2 linked regions of the Homo sapiens genome follow. Each later gene encodes a partner of the first gene's protein in a complex. Each region holds a gene or a part of one and is shown on either strand. Other genes may lie near its edges. The genes, in order: AAGAB and AP1S3.

Region 1 (8,768 bases):
TTCTAAAATAGTGAGCTTGACAGACTCTTCCACTATTCACTATATATGTCTAATCCAATGAAGGATATAGGGCTTCCCTCACTCATACCCCCTAATAAAAAACCACAAAATCATAATAATAGACATTAGCACAGTTTATAAATAAATCACATTTTAATCATCTGGCTTTGTTTAATCTACAAAATCAAATTCACAGCTTTTTCTAGTCTGGTCTGTTTTTTCTAACCAGATGGCCTAGTATATTTTCTAAAACCTTCCATCTTTTAAGGAAAACATGTTCCACCTTTTTTTTTTTTTTGCAATCCCAGAGCCAACTTCCCTAATGCAATCACCTCAAAGAAACACTGATGGGCTGGTGGTGAACCACAGACTCAAAGTCTTTCAGAACAGTAAAAGAAAAAAAAAAAAAAAGGAACAAAAGGTCACTAAGCAATGTCCAGTGTTCCCTGGAAAGCCTCTTCCTGAATGCTCCAGTCACTGAGCTGTCCCCTCCCTGTGGTCACTCCTGCTGGCCCCTGTAGCATTCCATTCCTTCTGCCATCTGTTTCAGGTTCTGCAGTGCTTATAAGGTAGTGTCTGGAGGGGTGTGAGCCTTATTTCTTTCTGCTCCTAACCCAACCTGTTTCTTTCATGCTGTGTAAATGGTTCTAGAGCCCACCTAGGCCAGAACCAGTTCTCAGCTGGTGTGCGGGCACCTTCCATCCACTGTACTATGTGCCAGTTCAGAGCCACAGCAGTAATGATCACAGTGAGGGCTAATGATATGCATTACAAAGTCTACAAAAACAAATAAGGATTTTTATTTGCAGTACTTTCCACTCTTCCTTTAAAAACTTGCCATTTGCTTATCAGTTCCTCTGGGGCTGACCCACTCAAACAAGACAAAGGATAAAGAACAAAAGATAGTCCTCCGAGGTTACAGGCTTGGAAGGGCAGAGAGGAGCTACGAACCTTGGAAGAAAAACAAGGTGCTCAGGAATTCATCGCCTAACATTTCACTTCCCCACCCACCCCTTAGTGCTCCCACTTTGGCAGTGATCTCTCTTTGGCTTTAAAGAGAAAGGGGGAAATGTGCCTTGTTTTGCAGGTGTGCAACAACACAGCTCTGGCATCTCAAGCAGCAGGGGAGAACTCTAAGACAGAAGAATTTCTTCATGAAAATCACGGTATGTTATCACATACTGTCTCCATGGCCCATACAAGGACTCCTTAAGGTTCTCTCTAACATACAACATATCCCCCACAACTCAGTAGAGAGGTTTTCTTCCCACTGGAATAGAAATCCTTTGCCTCATTTATTACAGTCTAAAAATCCACACTGGCTTTTTGATTCTTTCTAGCATGAGCTCAGACACTATACTTCAAAAGAATGCCCAGAGGCATTTTCTTAGGTAGAGACTTAGCTGCGGGCTGAGACTTCGGCCCCACATAGCTCACATCAATTCTGCAGCTGCCTCCTTTCCTCCCAATAAAAGCATCATAGCTCAGAGCTACAAGCTCCTTGAATGGAGAAAACCCAAATCACCCAGGAAAGGTGACACAACTCCTGATGTGCAGTATCAAGTGTGAATGCTGGAAATGCTACTTAAAAGGTTGACCAGGAATGGCCTGGAGGTTGTCTTCAACTTGAGTAAATCACACAGACCTCTGAGATTTATCCTACCCTCATTCCTAGAACAAAAAAAAAGTATATTTAAGAAATCCTCACTCATTACTATCACTGTATTCCTCACTCTCTTACAATATACTGAGGAAAAAAAAGATTTCTCCTTAACCTCCTACTAAAAACTAAAATTAAGGGGACCCTATAAACAAGTCAGGCAGCCAACATGATAAGGGCAATTTTGGCAAAATATGACTGGGCTGAGTAGAGAGGTATCTCAGAGACAGCTAGCATCTTTGTTGGTCAAACCCTAGTATGAATAATTCAGTGCTCTTCATCAGATGAAAGGCCTTCAATTTCATCTCTGTCTCCCCCGATTGCCATCCAGAATGCTTTGGCCACCTGTGGAGAGAAGCATGCAACAAATTTTAGGCAACAGCTACATTTCAGCTTGTTTCATATGTCATACCTTAAACTGACTGAGACCTAAAATTCTGCACTTTGCCCTCCAGTCCTCTGGCAACACATATCAGAACCCTTGAATACCATTTGACCCATGATCGCCACATCTAGAAATTTATACCAAGGATATATTTAGAGTTGTATACAAAGATGATGTGTAAAGACATGCACAGCTTTGTTATTTATAGAAGCAAAAAATGCACATGACCTAAATGTCCAAAAGGGAACAGGATAAATTATGACACATATCAGGGAACACCATCAACCATACAAGTTTCCTGCCAATAGCATGTGTTGTGTTGGTAATAATAAAACAAAACAACTAAGAGTTTTCTGGCCCAATAGTTAGAAAGGCAAACATCCTGAGTCTCAATAAAGGTTCCACATCACTCACCATCCAGGTGAAAAATCTTGGTTTGACTGCAGCAACTATACTATTACTGTATAAATATTTAATTAGTTAGAAGTTAATATTCAATGAAAAGCTCACACTAAGACCCTTCAGAAATACACAAGTGTGATATATAATTATAATAATAGCACTGGACCTTTTATAGGTATTCAATAAATACCTGGCTGATTGTCTCACCTTTTCTGCATGCACTTTTCTTTGCTCATGAGGAAGCGTCGCAGCCTTGTCTAGGGGGAAAATATATCTTAAGAAATTTGTCTAATAGCACAGGATAACCTGGAGTATATGAATAACACTAGAAGATGGGAGACGGGTTTCAAAGACATGTTTATGATGTAGTCATTACATGTATTAGGAAGTTTTTAAGTCTTCCAAATTTTCCAGATGGGAATGATGTGAGTAAATTGGTAGGGATCTTACAGTTTCCACCTTATGTAACACATTGAAAGAAACAAGGCAAAAGCAGGAAAAGTAAAAAGAAAGAGAACGAAGATGGAAAAATTTTCCCCAGGGAATTTTTTTTTTTTACCAAGTCCCAGGAGTAGCTAAGTTTCTCAAGACAGCTGAGACCAGAACAAGGAATCCAATCCAGCAGTTAACAAAATAAAATGCTACTACGTAAAACAGACAAGCATCAACATGGGAACATATTAGACACAATGGATCTGATTACCTTTCATTTCCTTTAACTTTGAAAAGAGTCTTTCAAAATTCTCCACATCTCCTCCTCCAGTGGTAAGACTGGCTAATTCTTGAATATCCAGATCTAACATGGGATCTGAAATAGGGATTTGTCACATTATCTGTCACGTTATTTGCATATGTGCTACACTCAGAGAATCCTAAGGCAAATGCTAACCTTGATGAAGTCACCAATGATCGAAGGCCCAGTGTATACCAGCTTTACAGCTCATGGCTCACCCTGCTTGGCTGCTAGTGGGCCCTCACAAATGAAGAGTAACTATTTTATCCTCACAACATCGTCATGAGGTAAGGAGTACTATTTCCATTTTAAAGATGAGAAAACCACATCTCAGAGTTGAAGTGACTTGCCGAGGTGACAGCTAGTAAGTTGATTCAGACGCAGGTGTTTCCAACTCGGAAAGCATACTCACTCCACTAAGGTACACTGATTCACCAATAATGACTAAAGTTTATGCCATATTTTACTGTACAACAAATATTTTCACATCTATTACCGACAACCACTATAAAAGGTGATTAGAACAGATAACATTATCTGAGAATAACAGAAATGATATGAAAAAAAAACCTGTATCTAAAAATGAACTCATCTAAAATTACAGCTATTCAGAGGTAGAGCTGATTTAAATTCATATTTTCTTACTACAAATCTTTTACTGTTTCTACCTTGGCACACTGCTTCTTTATTAAAGTTTGTTTTTAATCAGAATTTTAACTCCTTCTCCACTCCAGGCCCACTATGTTTAGAATGTCTTCCCTGCCCATCCCACTTTCACAGGTCTCCTTCCTTAGAATTCTTTCTACACTTATTGTTTCCAGAACTGTCTTAGCACTTGCATATATTACCTTGTATTCTAACATTTCTCCACCACTACTTTAATAAGTACTACTACCATAAGAGAGAATTTGCTTTGGATCTGCACCACTGAATGCTTTAACTTACATGGTTCCACTGCATCTTTGCAACAGCCCTATGAGGAAAGATTTATCACCGTTATTTTACAGAAGAGGAAACTAATGCCAACAGAGGTTAATTTATTCAAGGTAAGGCCATTACTAGCGATAAAGCCATGATTTGAACCCAGCTGTACAGGACTCCAATGACTATGACCTTAACCATTACATTATAGGTCCTATCTCTATATTTTTAGACTAAGCTCCATGAAGATAGGATGATGACTTATAATTATTTGCATCTATCACAATGCCATATAGACAATTTGGTGTTAAAAACGCATCTTGGTTAATATATTTGCTTTCGTTCAATGGACATGTCATGTAGGAAGTTGGTATATAGGGCTGAAGATAAAAGTTTGTGATTTATCTGTGTATACATAGTAATTGAGCTGTTAATGTAGACAGAATCACTCCATGCCTAAATATAGATTTGGAAGAGTTTAAATGCAGCAATGAAGAATGACAATATTTAAAGGCTGGGTAAAGAAGGGTATCTACCAAAGAAAGAGAAGGAATAATCAGAGAAGTAGGAAGAAAACCAGGCGACACCGTGTTGGGTGAGGCATGGGAAGAAAATGTTTCAAAGAGGAATTGATCTGTAACACTGAATGCTGCCACGAGGTCAAGATGAGGACTGGAAAATATCTACCCGATTTAGCGGCATGGAGGTCATTGCTGGCCTTTGCACAGAGCTGTTGTAGTGGCATACCAGGGGCAAAAGACAGACATGAGTGAGGTGAGGAGCAAATGGGAGGTGAGGAATGGAAACAAGTTTAGTAAAGAGATAAGGAGGAAGATGTGGAAATGTTTGGTTTTTGTTGATTTGGTTTTGCCTTAAATCTTTTTCTTAATTTACTCTTAAAAAAAAACTTGCAAAAATAGTACACAGAGTTTCTATATGCTCTTCACCCACTTTCCCCTAGTGTTAACATCGTTTATGACCATGGTACAATTATAAAAATCAAGAAGTTAATATTGGTATAATGCCATTAACCATGCCATAGACTTCATCGGTTTTTCCACTAATATCCTTTTTCTGTTCCAAGATCCTACATGGAATTTAGTTGTCAAATCTCCTTAGTCTTCTCCAATTTGTGACAGTTCCTCAGTCTTTCACGACTTTAACACTTGTATGTCAGTTATTTTGTATAATGTCCCTTAATTGGGTTTGTCAGATTGTTTTCTTATTATTAGATTGCAGTTATGCATTTTTGGTGAGATTACCTTCTCACTGCATCCTATCAGGAGGGCTATTATGTCAATATGTCTTATTACCAGTGATGTTAACCTTCATTACATAATTAAAGTGGCTGGCATCTGATGAGTTTCTCCAGTGTAAAGTTACTATTTTCCCCTTTGTAATAAATAAACATCTTGAGAGAGATACTTTTAGACTATGCAGATATACTACTTCTCCTCAAACTTTCACCTATGCTACCAAGAACTATTACTGTGTTTTGTGCCTAATGATGGCTTTCTATTTTCCTCATTCCTTCTATATTTATTACTTGGGATTCTTCTGGAAGGAGATGCTGTCCTTTCTTTCTCATTTGTTTATTCAATTATTTATTTATATTAGTATGAACTCATGGATACTTAGCTTACTCTATGGGTTATAACCCAATACTATATTAATCTACTTTGCTGGTCAAATTGTTCCAGATTTAGCCACTGGAAGCTCTTTCAGGTTGGTCCCTATGCCCTTTCAACATGTCCCCATTCTTTTTTGAGAATTTTCTTAATTTCTGGTACCAAGAGATGCTCCAGGGTCATCCTGTATTTTTCTTGCCCAAGTCCTGGAATCAACCACTTCTCCAAGGAGCCCTAGTTCCTTTTATTGGAGAATGGTATTTAGAAAGCAAGATCTGGCCAGGCGCAGTGGCTCACGCCTGTAATCCAAGCACTTTGGGAGGTCGAGGCAGGTGGATCACCTGAGGTCGGGAGTTTGAGACCAGCCTGACCAACACGCAGAAACCCCGTCTCTACTAAAAAACAACACAAAACAAAATTAGCTGGGCGTGGTGGCACATGCCTGTAATCCCAGCCACTCAGGAGGCTGAGGCAGGAGAATCGCTTGAACCCAGGAAGCGAGATTGCGGTGAGCCGAGATCGTGCCACTGCACTCCACCCTGGGCAACAAGAGCGAAACTCCATCTCAAACAAAAACAAAAACAAAAACACAACAACACACACACACAAAAAGAAAGCAAGATCTGAGTGCTAAGTGTGTCCACTGCTATGGTGGTATTGTTGCTTCTAGGCCTCTCAGTGGACAGAACTAGGAAATATATGTGTGTATACTAATACACGCATATACACACACATCTGTATTTATTTTCTTAACTGTAAGTATATTTTTAAAGCCATGAGTTCATACTGATACATTAGATTCCAATCCAGTACCAAAGGGTACATCTTGGCCTTCCCTTTTCCTTATTTGTAACCTTTTTCCTCTGGCAGTGAGAAACCTAACTCTCACTATCTATATTTTTTATTTTCTATATGTCAGTATATGTGTGGTGTATAAAATATCTATATATAAAATTTCAGAATTGCTGAGCCATGCTCCTATAAGAAACAAATTTACTAAGTAGAGTTCAGTATCTGTGTTCAGTTATTTTTGTTTTTAGCCTTACGGTATCTAGTCCAATTACTGTTTTCTAAAGTTACTTAGGTTAGTGCTTCAAGTCCCCACCCACTTCAGTGTGATTACTAGTTTGTTTTAATGGCAGAGACTCTGGCAGGTTTAAAAGCCAATGGGAAGGATTCAATTGAGAGGCTAAGGATGAATAAACTGGAAAGAAAAAAAATTATACATAATTTTTTCTTCTTCTTCATATGTTTCTATAACCAATCACTTGAGTTTTCTACATGAATTATCTCATAAGAAAAAAGAGTTTTAAAAATTTATTACTGCACATGAGCCGTCTGTAGCATAAAGATAAAGTAGGAATATCAGTAGTTCCCCAGCGAAAGAAGATTTATAGTTATTGTCAAGTAAGCTCCTTGGTTTTCTGGCTTTTGGACAGCATACTGGATTCCAGCTTCAGCTCCAGGCCCTTCTTGCTAGATGTCCTTGGACAAGTTATTAAACTTCTCTGCAAAACTTCATTACCAAATGAGAAAGGGGATATAAAATAACTTTAAAAGCATATGGAAGGGCTTATAAATATAAAGTTGTATTATTCTTGTCACCATCGATTCTGACTTCTGTTAAATATTATGAAAAAACTACGTGATACAGAGCTAGCTGTTTCGCCACCTGGTTCGGTCTGCCTTGGCTAAGATTATCTGAATCAAGATCCTGCTAGGAGAATTAAAGAGAAAATGGTACCCACATATTTGTTATATATTTATTCTTCTTCCTTTTTCTGATAGCCACTGGCAAGGCTCACATTCATGTGTGGTATACTACCAATTTTTTTCCCTTCTCTGTGTTTAAAGTCAATTTCCCCCTCAACAATTTCTGCCCAGATACCTATTCCAAGTTGCACAAAGCTCTCTCTTGGCAGCCAAAGGAGGAACTTACCCACAATGCTATCAACCTGGGCATCTGTTGTGTTAGATGCACCACCCCGATGATCAGAGAGGGATTCAGTACTATCTGCTGCTGGCAAATGGGGTTGCTGTTGAGGAAAATACACATAAGCAACAATTTAATCGTAGTCTATTTCAGAACTAAATCCAAAAAAGCTCACACTTTCAGTCCTTGGTTGGCTTGAGAAAAGAGTAATAGGAACTGGAGGCAAAGAAAGAAGAGCAAGATCACATTAAAAAAATAAAAGGCTAAAACTTAACTAACCCAGAAGTACTTTCCCCCAAGGAAGAACTAGAAAGCGTTGATTTTGCTTTAGACTACTAAAACATGTTTTTTGTTTGTCTCATTTAAGATCCATGTTATATTCAAAATGTGAAAATGTAACACAATCGTAACACAAATAGCTCAGAGGCTGTTGAAAAAGATCCCTGGAAAGACAATGTGGCACTGTATAATTTGCTCTTGGCTCCAGCTGCTGACCAAGGTAAACCTGGAACAAAGTTCTTAAGGATGCAGGGTTGAAACTGGACTACAAGCTCATTGAGGACAGGGACCTTGCCTCAGATTTGCCAAGGTCTTTTACACAGGAAGTACTAAAAAAGCACCATGAATTTTATTTTCTATTTAAAGATCTGAAGGCAAATTAATGCCTCAGGGAAATCCTAGCATATTTTAGAAAGCACCCTAGTAAAAATAAAACCAAAGCTGTAAACATCTTGAAAGGGCTTACTGCTTTAGCAAGGGCTGTTTTAGACCTTCCTTTCATCTATTTTTAACATTCTCTGTCACCTTTTAAATGGAAAGGAAAACAATGGTGAATGTGTCAAGATTCATAATGACAAGGAGAAATTAAAGCCAAAGAGGGAAAAAAGATCCAAGAAAAACCTTTACCTCTGGGTGACAGGGATCTGCTGACCCAATGCTATGGTTTGTTCCAGTCAATGAGTTGAGAAGGCTAAAGCCTTGGTTCCTATCTGAAAAGGAAAAATACACTTAGTGAAATTTGTCATTTACATTTTAAACTGTTCAAATGGCTATGATGATGAAACAAAGGCTACTTATTTGTTACCAAAGTTCTAACTACATATATA
Region 2 (12,933 bases), on another chromosome or scaffold:
TCCTGAGGCTGAGATAGGAGAATGGCGTGAACCCGGGAGGCGGAGCTTGCAGTGAGCTGAGATCGCGCCACTGCACTCCAGCCTGGGTGACAGAGGGAGACTCCGTCTCAAAAAAAAAAGAAAAGAAAACAGTTCCTCATGGTCGACCTTCACCCAGTTCTCCTCCAGCACTTCTATTTCCTTAATAATTATTCCCTTTCTTTATTCTACTCACTGACCCCTTCCCTCTCACACACACATCCAGTCACTCATACACACACTGTTTTCTGAAGAGCTGAAGGCGGGGTCATCCCACCCTTCCAGGCTCAGCCCCAGGCCTGTCTCTCCCATCTCCTCCCCACTGAATTCCTGTGGCAATTATATAATTTAACAACATACTTCAGAGCTTAATTTTCCACTCTAGATTTGCTATGCATGTAAAAAATTTTGCCCAAAAACATGACAAGTATCTTGTAATCAAGAAACAGATCTTATATTTGTGGGGTTTTTTTTCCTATTAATAATAACCACTGCAGTTAAGAACACAAAGATTGCCGGCCATGGTGGCTCAGGCCTGTCATCCCAGCACTTTGGGAGGCCGAGGTGGGTGGATCACCTGAGGTCAGGAGTTTGAGACCAGCCTGGCCAACATGGGGAAACCCCATCTCTACTCAAAAGACAAAAATTAGTCAGGTGTGGTGGCGGGCACCTGTAACCCCAGCTACTTGGGAGGCTAAGGTGGGGGGATCACTTGAACCTGGGACCAGAGGTTGCAGTGAGCCGAGATTGTGCCACTGCACTCCAGCCTGGATGGCAGAGCAAGACTCTGTCTCAAAAAGAACACACAGATGAACAGGTGAGAAATACCCTGAAACAGTATTATTTTTCCATTCATCATTTTTCCCTGACAGAGTAATCAACTTTGAATATATCCACAACACCTGTCAGTTGTTTAATTTTTTCCTATAGTAAATATGCTGATTGAATTTCTCCTGGAGTCCTTTGAGAATCAGACTAGTCCTGTGTTGTGTTTCAAGTCATCCAAGGAGAAAAAGACTGGAAATAGGGGGCAGAAATTCCAGGAAATTTCAGTACGACTCTGAAGTTGAATAAAACATTAATAACTTGCGGCAGGTATGGTGGCTTATGCCTGTAATCCCAACAATTTGGGAGGCCAAGGCGGGCAGATCACTTGAGGTCAGGAGTTCGAGACCAGCCTGGCCAACATGGTGAAACCCCATCTCTACTAAAAATACAAAAATTAGCTGAGCATAGTGGTGTGCGCCCGTAATCCCAGCTAATTGAGAGGCTGAGGCATGAGAATCGCTTGAACCCGGGAGGCAGGGGTCGCAGTGAGCAGAGATTGCACCACTGCACTTCAGCTTGGGTGACAGAGAGAGACTCCGTCTCAGAAACAAAACAAAACAAAATTAATAACTTAGGACTCTATTCATATTTCATAGAGATGCTTTTTTGTTTTTGTTTTTTTAAGACAGGGTCTCACTCTGTCATCCAGGCTGGAGTTCAGGGGCACAATCTCGGCTCACTGCAACCTCTGCCTTCCAGATTCAAGCAATCTTTCCACCTCAGTCTCCCAAGTAGCTGGGAATACAGGCGAGCACCACCACGCCCAGCTAATTTTGAGATGCTTTTTTTGAACTTTGCTCAAGAGGCTATGCTTACTATGCTAAACTCAACACCCTGCATGGTAATGACCACTTAATGGTTATTAAGAACTTTCATTTTCTTCCTACTCAACACTCATTAAAAATCTATCCCCAGGGCCTTTTATACCTTGACAAAGATGACTTCAGTTACAAGCAAAATTTTGTAAGAGGCGGGCAATGGTATATCCATCATACCCTTTCAAAGTTTACCACTAACAAACTTCAAGCATTCATCTGAGAGACCAATCTGCCTTATTGTATATTCAAGTCTTGCCCTTCCCCCATAGTTTTTGCAAAGATGGTTGATGTAGACTAGATTATCGTGAGACGGAATGGACTTTGAAAGGCGGGACTCTCTTATGTAGTGGACTTAGAACTGAAGACATGACTTCTTAGTAATGAAACTGAAGGTAAGTACTTGTTTATACAACAAAATTAAAAAGTTCTATACAGACTTCTGAATCATACTTTAAAAAAAAATGTGATATTACTGTAACCCTTACCTTCCCCTACCTCCCCAATATCTGCAGTCCATAATTTTGTTTTGTTTTGAGATAGAGTCTCACTTTGTCGCCCAGGTTGGAGTGCAGTGGCACGATCTCAGTTCACTGCAACCTCCACCTCCTAGGTTCAAGCTATTCTCCTGCCTCAACCTCCGAAGTAACTGGGATTACAGGGGTTTGCCACCACACCCAGCTACATTTTTTTTTATTTTCAGTAGAAACGGGGCTTTACCATGTTGGCCTGGCTGGTCTCGAACTCCTGATCTCAAGTGATCTACCCACCTCACCCTCCCAAAGTGCTGAGATTATAGGCATGAGCCACTATGCCCGGCCGATTTTGTTTATTTCATCAGTTTAAATAAATTTCTCAGAGGAAAAAAAAAAATCTAAAGTATTTTCATTAGCTTTTCCCATTTCTCTTAGAAATAGCCCTGGCTAGGCTGGGCACTGTAATCCCATCACTTTGGGAGGCCAAGGCGGGCTGATCACCTGAGGTCAGGAGTTCAGGACCAGCCTGGCCAACATGGTGAAATCACGTCCTACTTAAAATACAAAAATTAGCTGGGTGTGGTAGCAGGTGCCTATAATCTCAGCTACTCAGGAGGCTGAGGCAGGAGAATTGCTTGAACCCAGGAGGTAGAGGTTGCAGTGAGCCAAGATCGTGTCATTGCACTCCAGCCTGGGGTACAAGAGCAAGACTTCATCTAAAAAAAAAAAAAAAAAAAAAAAAAAAAAAAAAAAGAAGAAGAAGAAAAGAAAAAGAAATAGCCCTGGCTAGCATTTATGAAATATGTTCCAGGTGCCAGGCCCTGTGCTGATTGAACCAAGCAGTCTTATTCCACGCTCAGGTGATCTCATGAAATGGGATGAACCAAGTATCTAAGATCAAAGCGCTCACACAGGGCCCTGGGGTCATTCCCCTCACCACATTCTCCTCTCTCTCTTTTTTTTTTTTTTTTTTTGAGACAGACTCTCACTCTGTTGCCCAGGCTGGAGTGCAGTGGCACAATCTCGGCTCACTGCAACCTCTGCCTCCCAGGCTCAAGCGATTCTCTTGCCTCAGCCTCCCGAGTAACCGGGGTTATAGGCGTGCACCACCATGCCCAGCTAATTTTTTGTCAAGGCCAACACTGCCCCCTACCCCATGTGCCACATCTGGGTCCCCACATGGCCCACCTGCAACTTCCCAGGAAATAAAACTGAGATGACTCAAGAATGCTTAATATCAAATTCTTCTCCTGTGTGATTGATCCAAAATATTTACAGAGTTGAGAGAACTCCTCACCAAGAATGTGAGCTCCGTGCAAGCAGGTGGCTTCTGGCTTGTTCAACACACTCTCTGAGGCCCAGACCCATGGCTGGTTTCTGTGGACACAGGGTCATTACATGGAGAAGCCCTGCATTCAGAAGGACCCAAAACTTGGTTTAATGCTCTGCTGTCACTATCTTGAAATTCCTGGTAAACTTTGAAAAAGGGATCCTACATTTTATTTTTATTTTATTTTTTTGAGACTGAGTCTCACTCTGTCACCCAGGCTGGAGTGCAGTGGCGCGATCTCGGCTCACTGCAACCTCCACCCTCCGGGTTCAAGCGATTCTCAGCCTCCCGACTAGCTGGGATTACAGGCGCCTGCCACTGCACCCAGCTAGTTTTTGTATTTTTAGTACAGATGGGGCTTCACCATCTTGGCCAAGCTGGTCTTGAACTCCTGACGTGGTGATCCACCAGCCTTGGCCTCCCAAAGTGCTGGGATTACAGGCATGAGCCACTGCACCCAGCCAGGACCCTGCATTTTCATTTTGCACTGGGCACTGCAAATTAGGTAGCCAGTCCTGCCTGTCATGGGGCAGGCATCCAAATTATTTGTCCAATATACCTATGATGAGTTAGTGGAAGCTGCCCTAGAAAATGGGTCAATAAGCCATGACTTACAGGCCAAATCTGGCCTTCTGCCTGTTGTTGTAAATAAAGTTTTATTAAAACACAGCTCCAGCCAGGCACAGTGGCTCATGTCTATAATCCCAACACTTTGGGAGACCAAGGCGGGAGGATCACCTGAGGTCAGGAGTTCAAGACTAGCCTGGCCAACGTGGCAAAACCCTATCTCTACTAAAAATACAAAAATTAGCTTGGGAGGCCAAGGCGGGGGAGATCACTTGAGGTCGGGAGTTCGAGACCAGTCTGACCAACATGGAGAAACCTTGTCTCTCAGGAGGCTGAGGCAGGAGAATCACTTGAACCCAGGAAGCAGAGGTTGTGATAAGCCAAGATCACACCATTGCACTCCAGCCTGGGCAACAAGAATGAAACTCCATCTCAAAAAAAAGTTAAAAATTAGCTGGGTAAGGTGGTGGGCACCTGTAATCCCAGCTACTTGGGAGACTGAGGCAGGAGTATCACTTGAACCCAGGAGGCAGAGGTTGCAGTGAGCTGAGATCACACCACTGTGCTCCAGCCTGGGCAACAGAGTGAGACTCCATCTCAAAAAAAAACAAAAAAAAAACAAAAAAACACAGCTCCATCCATTTGTGTCTTGTCCGTGGCACTTTCACTCTACAACAGAAGAGTTGAGGAATACTGAAAGACTGTAGGGTCCACAAAGCCTAAAATATTTACTATCTGGCCTTTTACGGAGAAAGTTCACTGTCCCCTGCTTTAGTAAATTGTCTCTCCAAATTTTCTATCCAAATAACTGTAACAGCAGGAAAGGCAGGTGGCCTCATGAGACCAGGAGGGTAGCCTAAGCTGCAAGCCATAAACAATATATGTCTTAGGGTTTGTATGTATGAATTTTGCATCCGGGAGCCAAATATATTAGTGTGTTAATACAAAAATATTTTCTCGGCTGGGCGCTGTGGATCACACCTATAATCCTAGCACTTTGGGAGGCCGAGGCAGGCAGATCACTTGAGGTCAGGAGTTCAAGACCAGCCTGGCCAACATAGTGAAACCCTATCTCTACCAAAAATACAAAAATTAGCCGGGCGTGTTGGCATGCACCTGTAGTCCCAGCTACTCAGGAGACTGAGGCAGGAGAATTGCTTGAACCTGGGAGGCAGAGGTTGCAGTGAGCCGAGATTACGCCACTGCACTCCAGCCTGGGTGACAGAGTGAGACTCTCTCTCAAAAAAAAAAAAAAAAAAATTATCATTCTGAACAATACTCCAGGGATGAGTCAAATTTATCCCTTGACAACCCCTGTCTACAAGGATGAGTACGCAGAAGGTATGGGCACCCCAGTTTGCAAACCATGCCTTCATTCCTCATCTTTGATATACCCAGTGTGGAAGGAAGTCTCCTGTAGCATTTCAGTGTCCACTGAGCTTCAACCCACACCAATCATTTCTTACCAGCCCAGAAAATCCTGTTAGAGAAGATCCAACAAGGACATTAAATACAGAATCTCTTGTGCACTTATTCTTAACTGACTGTACTAGGTCCATGCCCCATCGCACTGAAAGACTAAAGTTTCAGAAGCTACTGAGAGCCAGGAATTTCAGAGCCCAGAGATGCCTGTAGGAAAGTTTTTAGAAGAGGGATGTTGGCAGAGGCCAGTTTCCTCATGATTGTCGATAACATTCTATTTCTAACTTGAATGATTTTCAGTATCCCCTTTTCATTGTTAAGATTTTTAATTTACCTTATTGCTAGCAGCGATACAAGAAATACATTTTTTTTTCTTTTTAATAGAGACTGAGTCTCACTGGTCTCAAACTCCTGGGCTCAAGCAATCCTCCCTCCTCAGCCTCCCAAAGTGCTGGCATGAGCCTCCAACCCTGGCCCCTTTCTCTTTTGGAGATAGGATCTCACTCTGTCACCAAGGCTGGAGTGCAGTGGCACAATCATGGCTCACTGCAGCCTTGACTTCCTGGGCTCAGGTGATCCTCTCATCTCAGCCTCTCAAATAGCTGGGACTACATGGGTGCACTACCACGCCCAGCTAATACTTTCTGTATTTTTTCTAGAGATGGGGTTTCGCCATGTTGCCTGGGCTGGTCTCGAACTTCCAGACTCAAGCAATCCACACACCTTGGCCTCCCAAAGTGTTAAGATTACAGGCGTGAGCCACCGTGCCCGGTCAAGAAATACATTTCCTTAGTCAGGGTGCTGGCTGGATAGTTTCATATGCCACTGAGAGAATTTAGGAGCATTTGCCTCTGACATTTGTGTACATTCTTTCATGTCATAGATTATGGGGGAGCTTCAAATGGTTTAAAGGGAGTTTTCCTGGATACTTCAGGTTAAACAGAGAAAGTATCGGGGAAAACTAGGTATACCAGAAAGGGAGACTCTGAGAGAGAAAAAGACAGGCCCCAGGGAAGAAATGAACCACAGAACCACAGTGAAGTTTCAGGTCTCTGGGAGAAACACTGGCTATCGTAACAACAAAACAATATCAAAAGGACAATTCATGAAGACATCAAGAAGTACTTGTTCTGTTGGCCGGGCACGGTGGCTCATGCCTGTAATCCCAGCACTTTGGGAGGCTGAGGCGGGCAGATCACGAGGTCAGGAGATCAAGACCATCCTGGCTAACACGGTGAAACCCCATCTCCATTAAAAATACAAAAAAATTAGCTGGGCATGGTGGCGGGAGCCTGTAGTCCCAGCTACTCAGGAGGCTGAGGCAGGAGAATGGCGTGAACCCGGGAGGCAGCGCTTGCAGTGAGCAGAGATCGTGCCACTGCACTCCAGCCTGGGAGACAGAGTAAGACTCCGTCTCAAAAAAAAAAAAATCAAAAAAAGGACTTATTCTGGGGATTATTAAAGGAGTTTTCTCTCTGTGTGTGTGTGTGTGTGTGTGTGTGTGTGTGTGTGTGTGTGTGTGTGTTGGAAAGGGGAGTAATTTTATCATTATGTCTTAAAATGAAATAATTCACGGGACCCAAAAGGGCAGACATTGACAACACCGTTCAGCAAATACACAGTGTGCTGCTTCCTTACAGCTGTTGTTGGCAAAATGCCACACAAAAGTTATCAGCAGCTGACAATACTCACCACAAACAAACAAACAAACAAAACGAGTGATAGAAACTCGGTAGTAACAATCCTGGTGAGGAGTAAATACAAGTCTCACTGGTGTTTTTGGGAGACCTGTGGGAAGGGCCAGTGGAGGAGAGCCCTCTTGGGACAACTGAACACCACAAAGGGTCATTTCTCCCCTGATCCCAAAGCCCTCGATCTTACACTAACTGCTGGCCAGCAGCCTAGACCAAGTCTCCGAGGAGGAAAGCACTCATTAGTGTAATAGACCGCTTCACCCTCAAACTGGAACTTAAATTGCCAAAATCATTACATGCTTATTACAATTCATTCAAGCTTCAGAACATAAAATTGATACAGAAGGGGAAGGGGGCGTGGCAGGACCTACAGGTTCATAGTTCGGTTTTTCCACCCTCACCCTCAACAACTCCCTGAGATTAAAATGAACAAAGGAATTTTTTTTCTTTTTTCTTTTTTTTTTTTTTTTTTAGGAGAAGGGTGTACTCCTACTATTTCAAACTTAAATATCTTCTGAATAAGAAATGGCTTTCCAGTTCTGTTTGGTAAATTCTCTCAAGTCAGATTTTAAATCGTACACCCAAAAAAAATCCTTGATTTTTTTTTAGCATAAATCTATCCTACTTTACATAAATAACATACATTATGAGAACGGAATTTGCAACACAAAAAGACGGTTATTCATGTTTCCAAAGGGATCAACATTTGAGTTTCTTTCAATGGGTGGCTCTACTGTTTTGTTCACAATGTGGTTTTGTGTCACCTCAACTTTTCAGAAGCACATGGACTACATACATCAAAGTCCACTTGTGCTTTTATTAAAAGTACCCCCAAAGCATTTCAAATGTCACTGTATACATCCCCACAGCTATCTTGTTAAAGGCAAAATACATACATACATACATACATACATACATACATACATACATAAACAACATAATCCTCCTTCATTGCCAACCATTCAACAGTACATTCTGCCCCATAAGCCTTTTTAAACACACTGGGCTCAGCTCGTGGGATTCCTGAAGTGCAATAGCCCTAACACTGTTTTCCAAGGTAGAGATTTCTAAAAGGTGAGATGGAGTACACAGTTGCTTCAAACAGTGTGATCCAGATACAAACACAGTCCCAACATGCACCAGATATGAAATCTCTGTGCCAGAAACCAGGGTCACTGGCACCATGGAATCAAGAACCATTTTCTGTGTGTAAAGTACTAGGTGCCTAGATCTGCCAGTAAGCATCTACCAGTTTCCTAGCATAAAAGTCAGCAAAAGTCAGGAATGAAGCAGCAGGAAAGACAGGGAGTTACACAGTGAGCCTCAACAAAGGTCTCAGAGCAGCTGGGCACTAGCGAGGGCCGCCAATTCTTTCTTACAACTTGAAGGTAATAACAGAGGAGAGGTGATGGTTACTGAGCATTTACAATGGCAAAGCTGTTTGAAGCGCCTTCACACGCATTCACTTATGGTACCTGTTAAACTCCGGGACAGTGATTATGAAACTTTTTGGATGCCTTTACACTCTTTTTATTTATTTATTTATTTATTTATTTATTTATTTATTTATTTGAGATGGAGTTTTGTTCTTGTTGCCCAGGCTGGAGTGCAATGGCACGATCTTGGCTCACCACAACCTCCACCTCACGGGTTCAAGCGATTCTCCTGCCTCAGCCTCCCAAGTAGCTGGGATTATAGGCATGCGCCACCACACCCAGCTAATTTTGTATTTTTAGTAGAGACAGTGTTTCTCCATGTTGATCAGGCTGGTCTCAAATTCCTGACTTCAGGTGATCCGCCTGCCAATCCCAAAGACCTTTTTGTTTATGTGGGTTATATCCACTGATATTTATTGTATTTGAAATTAAAATGAAAAAATAGATATTAACATATTTTAAAATAATACGACTTGGGCAACATAGGTAGGCTTCATTTCTACAAAAAGTAAAAAATTCCACTGGGCCCAATTGTTCATGCCTATAATCTCAGCACTTTGGGAGGACAAGGTGGGAATATTACATGAGTTCAGGAGTTCAAGACCAGCCTAGGCAACAAAGTAAGACCTCATTTATACAAAAATCAAAAAATTACCTGGGCATGATGGCACACACCTGTGGTCCCAGCTACATGGAAGGCTGAGGTAGGAGGATGCCTTGAGTCCACTGGGTTGAGGCTGCAGTAAGCCATGTTCATGCTACTGCACTCTACTCTGGGTGATAGAACAAGCCTTGTCTCAAAATAAATAAATAAATAAATAGCTGGGCATGGTGGGACATGCCTACAGTCCCAGCTACTCAAGAAGCTGAGGTAGGAGGGTTGCTGGAGCCTAGGAGGTTGAGGCTGCTGTGAGCTGTGATCACACCACTGCACTCAGCTTGGGCGACACAGAGACCCTGTCTCAAAAATAAATAAATAAAAAGAAAAAACAATAGTAAACCTATTACACATTAAACATAAATAACATTTTTATGACCAATAACAATATTTTTCCAAAGCAAAAAAAAAATTAGTGAAAAGCATGGCACTGTTTTACAATTTTGCAAATCTCCTTAATGTCTGGGCTTATCAAAGACAGTTGGACTTTCCTATCTGCATCTGTGTTCAATCTGTTGTACTATCTCAGCTTATGTAGACACAAGAAAACTTCACTGTAGTCTTGTGAGAATGAGAATGAAATGGGAAAATTAATATCTTAGTATTATTATGAAAATAGTTTTGACCTTGCAGACCTCCAGTAAAAGTCTTGGGGACTGCTGGGGGTACCCAGGTCACACTTTCAGAACCTCTGCCTTATGAGTTAGGAGATATTATCTCCATTTTTCAAATGGGCAAACTGAGACAGAGAGGTCAAGGAATTGTCCAAGGCCATACTGCTAGAATAGCTCAGAGTAGCTAAAATGCAATGAGCATAACAGATTTAACCTCAATTGTTTGTTGCAAGGATTGAATGAGATCGTGAATATAAAGAGCAGGACATCCTGCTTGTCTTATCACAAATGCCCAATAACATTAATGTTTCCCCGCCAGGTGCGGTGGCTCATGCCTGTAATGCCAGCACTTTGGGAGGCCGATGCAGGTGGATCACGAGGTCAGGAGTTTGAGACCAGCCTGGCCAACATGGCAAAACCCCGTCTCTACTAAAAATACAAAAATTAGCTAGGCGTGGTGGCGGGCGCCTGTAATCCCAGCTACTTAGGAGGCTGAGGCAGGAGAATTGCTTGAACTCGGGAGATGGAGGTTGCAGTGAGCCAAGATCATGCCACTGCACTTCAGCCTGGGTGACAGAGCAAGATTCCGTCTCGAAGAAAAAAAAATAATAATAATGTTTCCCATTTAGCAAAAACTGGTAGAAAAGCTGGAGAAACTTCCCACATTTCTGATCAACTCATCACACATATGACACCAGCAAGAAAAAATAAAACTCCACCACAGGTATTGTCCAGAGGAGCAGCTTTTCCTTATAGACCAAACCTTGGCCCATTCCTCAGCACAAAAGCAGCCTTTGATGACTCAGAAACGCAGGGCCTTATTCCAGCCTCTGTTAGGCAAATTACACTGGTGGACTGGGCATCTGTCACCTTGTTCCTTGGGAAACTTGAGCAAGCCAAGAAACCTGCTCCATTATTTACAGCATTGTTTTTGCATCACGCTGTATTTACAAGGAACCCTCAACAGACAAAAATGATGCCGCTAGTGTGTGCAGCCAAACCTTTAACAGAAACCAGCAACTGCGGTCTTGCTGGCCAGGTGCTCAGCACTCCCCGGCTCTCTTTGTTGATCAACTTTCTTAGCCCACGTGGCCCACCCACTCCTGCCTCCGGTGGGCCCACAGGGTGCAGGTCACTTCCCTTCTGCGGATTTGGGAAGTGGTAACACACTTGGGGAAGTGGGACTAGTGACGTTCAGACCACCACACTCTTAAAAGGCTGCCCCTAAACAGCAGGCAAGAGCAAGAGGAGCCTGAGCTATCGCTTCCACCCAAGTGCAGGTCACCAGATCTCTCATCAGCAGGGCTGCGGCCGGCCTCAGCTTCCAACCTGACCCCCTATCCCCTGCCCTTACACACCCCAGTCCATTCTCCAACCACAGCCAAACTGCACACCATGCCGGGTGCAGTGGCTCACCCCTGTAATCCCTACACTTTGGGAGGCCGAGGCAGGCGGATCACCTGAGGTCAGGAGTTCGAGACCAGCCTGGCCAACATGGTGAAACCCCGTCTCTACTAAAAATACAAAAATTAGCTGGGTGTGGTGGCACACGCCTGTAATCCCCGTTACTCGGGAGGCTGAGGCAGGAGAATCGCTTGAACCCGGGAGGCAGAGCCGAGACCACACCACTGCACTTCAGCCTGGGCGACAGAGCGAGATCAGTCTCAAAAAAACAAAAGTGCACAACGGGTAAGGTCAGTTTTCTTGCTAAAACGTCCCCGAGGTTTCCCCTACTCAGTTGGAACCAAAACCAAACTCCTTATTTTGGCCTATAAAAACCCGCCTCACCTGGCAGAAGCCCACCTCTCCTGCCACAAACAAGGCCTTCTCCCCTCCGCTTTGCTCTCTCTAATCCACCTGTAGCGCCCCTCCAGGACCTCCAGCAGCTAGAATGTCATGTCCTTGAAGAGGCTTTGCCAAATCAAAAGTTGCCACTCCACCCGGTTGTATTTGAGACTTTACAGCGCTTCTTACTTTAGAAGTTCTCTTCATTTTACTTGTATATTGGACGTGTCCCTCCCTCCGCATCCCCCTCCTGGAAGGTAAGCTTCCTGGAGAACAGGGGCTCCTCCTGGTCCCCCGCGACATCCCCAGCGCCCAGCACCGAGCCCGGCACAGACTAAGCACTCGGCTAAGGCGGATCGAATGAATGAATGGAGCCGCGGCGCCGCGGCGCCGCGTTGCCGCAGGAATCCCGGGCAAGCGATCCTGGCGCGTCCGCACCGTCTGGGGCAGCGGGGCCACAGGGACGCACGGTTCGGGTGGCCAGGCGGGACTCGGCCCGCACCCCCACCCGGCCGCGCGCCCGGCCCGGACGCCCCAGGTGCCTCCCCGGAGCGCGAGCGCCCCCACCGCCTACCCGGGCCGGCGGTTCCCCCGCACTCACCATCGTGGCTGGGCCGCCGCCTCCCCCGCCTTGCGAGCAAGGAGCGCTGGAGAAGCGAGGGCGAGAGGCGAGCGCTGGAGCCGGTGCGGCTGACAGGTGAGGCGCCCGGCTTAGACCATGGCTGCTTCCCACAATGCCCTGGCACTGAAAGTGTGCAGACTCCTCCCAGCGCGGCTGCCTCCTCCCTGCACGCTCCTCCCCGCTGCCTCCTCCCCGCGCCCTCCTCCCCGCTCCCCCCGCTCCTCGCCCTCCTGCTCTCCTTCTTTCTTCCTTTCCCCTTTCTCCTCCCTTCTCCTCCTCCTCCTCCTCTTCCCTCCTTTCTGCCTCTCCTCTGTACCCCCTCCCCGCCCCCGCCTCGGCTGCAGCTGTTCCCGCCCCGAGCCGGCCGCACCTGGAGCGAATGCACCTGCGCGCGCGGGCGTCTGTACCCCGACAGCCCGCAGCTCGGCGCGGGTGGTCAGGCGAGAGCGCGTGGCCCGCTAGGAACTCCCTGCGCGGGGAACTCCCTGCGCGGAGAACACCGGGGACTTTTCGCGATTCTGCCGCGCGAGTGTGTCCTGTATTCCTTCCGCAAACGTTTATCAAACCTGGCAAAGATACTTCCGATACACTCGCAGAAAGTGCCGGGGGCTGCCTTATCCTAAGCCTCCTAGGGAGGGAGCAGTTGGAAGAGAAAGAACTAGAAGCGT

Evidence for each region.
Region 2: the proteins of AAGAB (region 1) and AP1S3 are in contact, whole or in part, in a crystal structure (PDB 9DDT), measured with the Homo sapiens proteins. Residues at the interface, in NP_078942.3 of Homo sapiens: Asn51, Lys52, Tyr53, Tyr54, Glu108, Val109, Met110, Ile111, Gln128, Ile132, Gly135, Phe136, Glu137, Asp151, Phe153, Pro154, Glu155, Arg161, Gln164, Ala165, Asn167, Ala168, Asn169, Val170, Met176; in NP_001034658.1 of Homo sapiens: Arg10, Gln11, Lys13, Arg15, Gln37, Leu40, Ser41, Arg61, Tyr62, Ala63, Ser64, His85, Val88, Asp92, Phe95, Val98, Glu100, Leu101, Asp102, Ile104, Phe105, Asn106.

What each region holds. Positions count from the first base shown.
Region 1 is NC_000015.10:67,200,894-67,209,661, forward strand, and holds part of AAGAB (alpha- and gamma-adaptin-binding protein p34), read right to left. Parts: intron 8,652-8,768; coding exon 8,569-8,651; intron 7,766-8,568; coding exon 7,669-7,765; intron 3,256-7,668; coding exon 3,151-3,255; intron 2,705-3,150; coding exon 2,655-2,704; intron 2,006-2,654; coding exon 1,928-2,005; 3' UTR 1-1,927. UniProt on the Homo sapiens protein: May be involved in endocytic recycling of growth factor receptors such as EGFR.
Region 2 is NC_000002.12:223,825,204-223,838,136, forward strand, and holds the start of AP1S3 (AP-1 complex subunit sigma-3), read right to left. Parts: upstream 12,380-12,933; 5' UTR 12,248-12,379; coding exon 12,245-12,247; intron 1-12,244. UniProt on the Homo sapiens protein: Subunit of clathrin-associated adaptor protein complex 1 that plays a role in protein sorting in the late-Golgi/trans-Golgi network (TGN) and/or endosomes.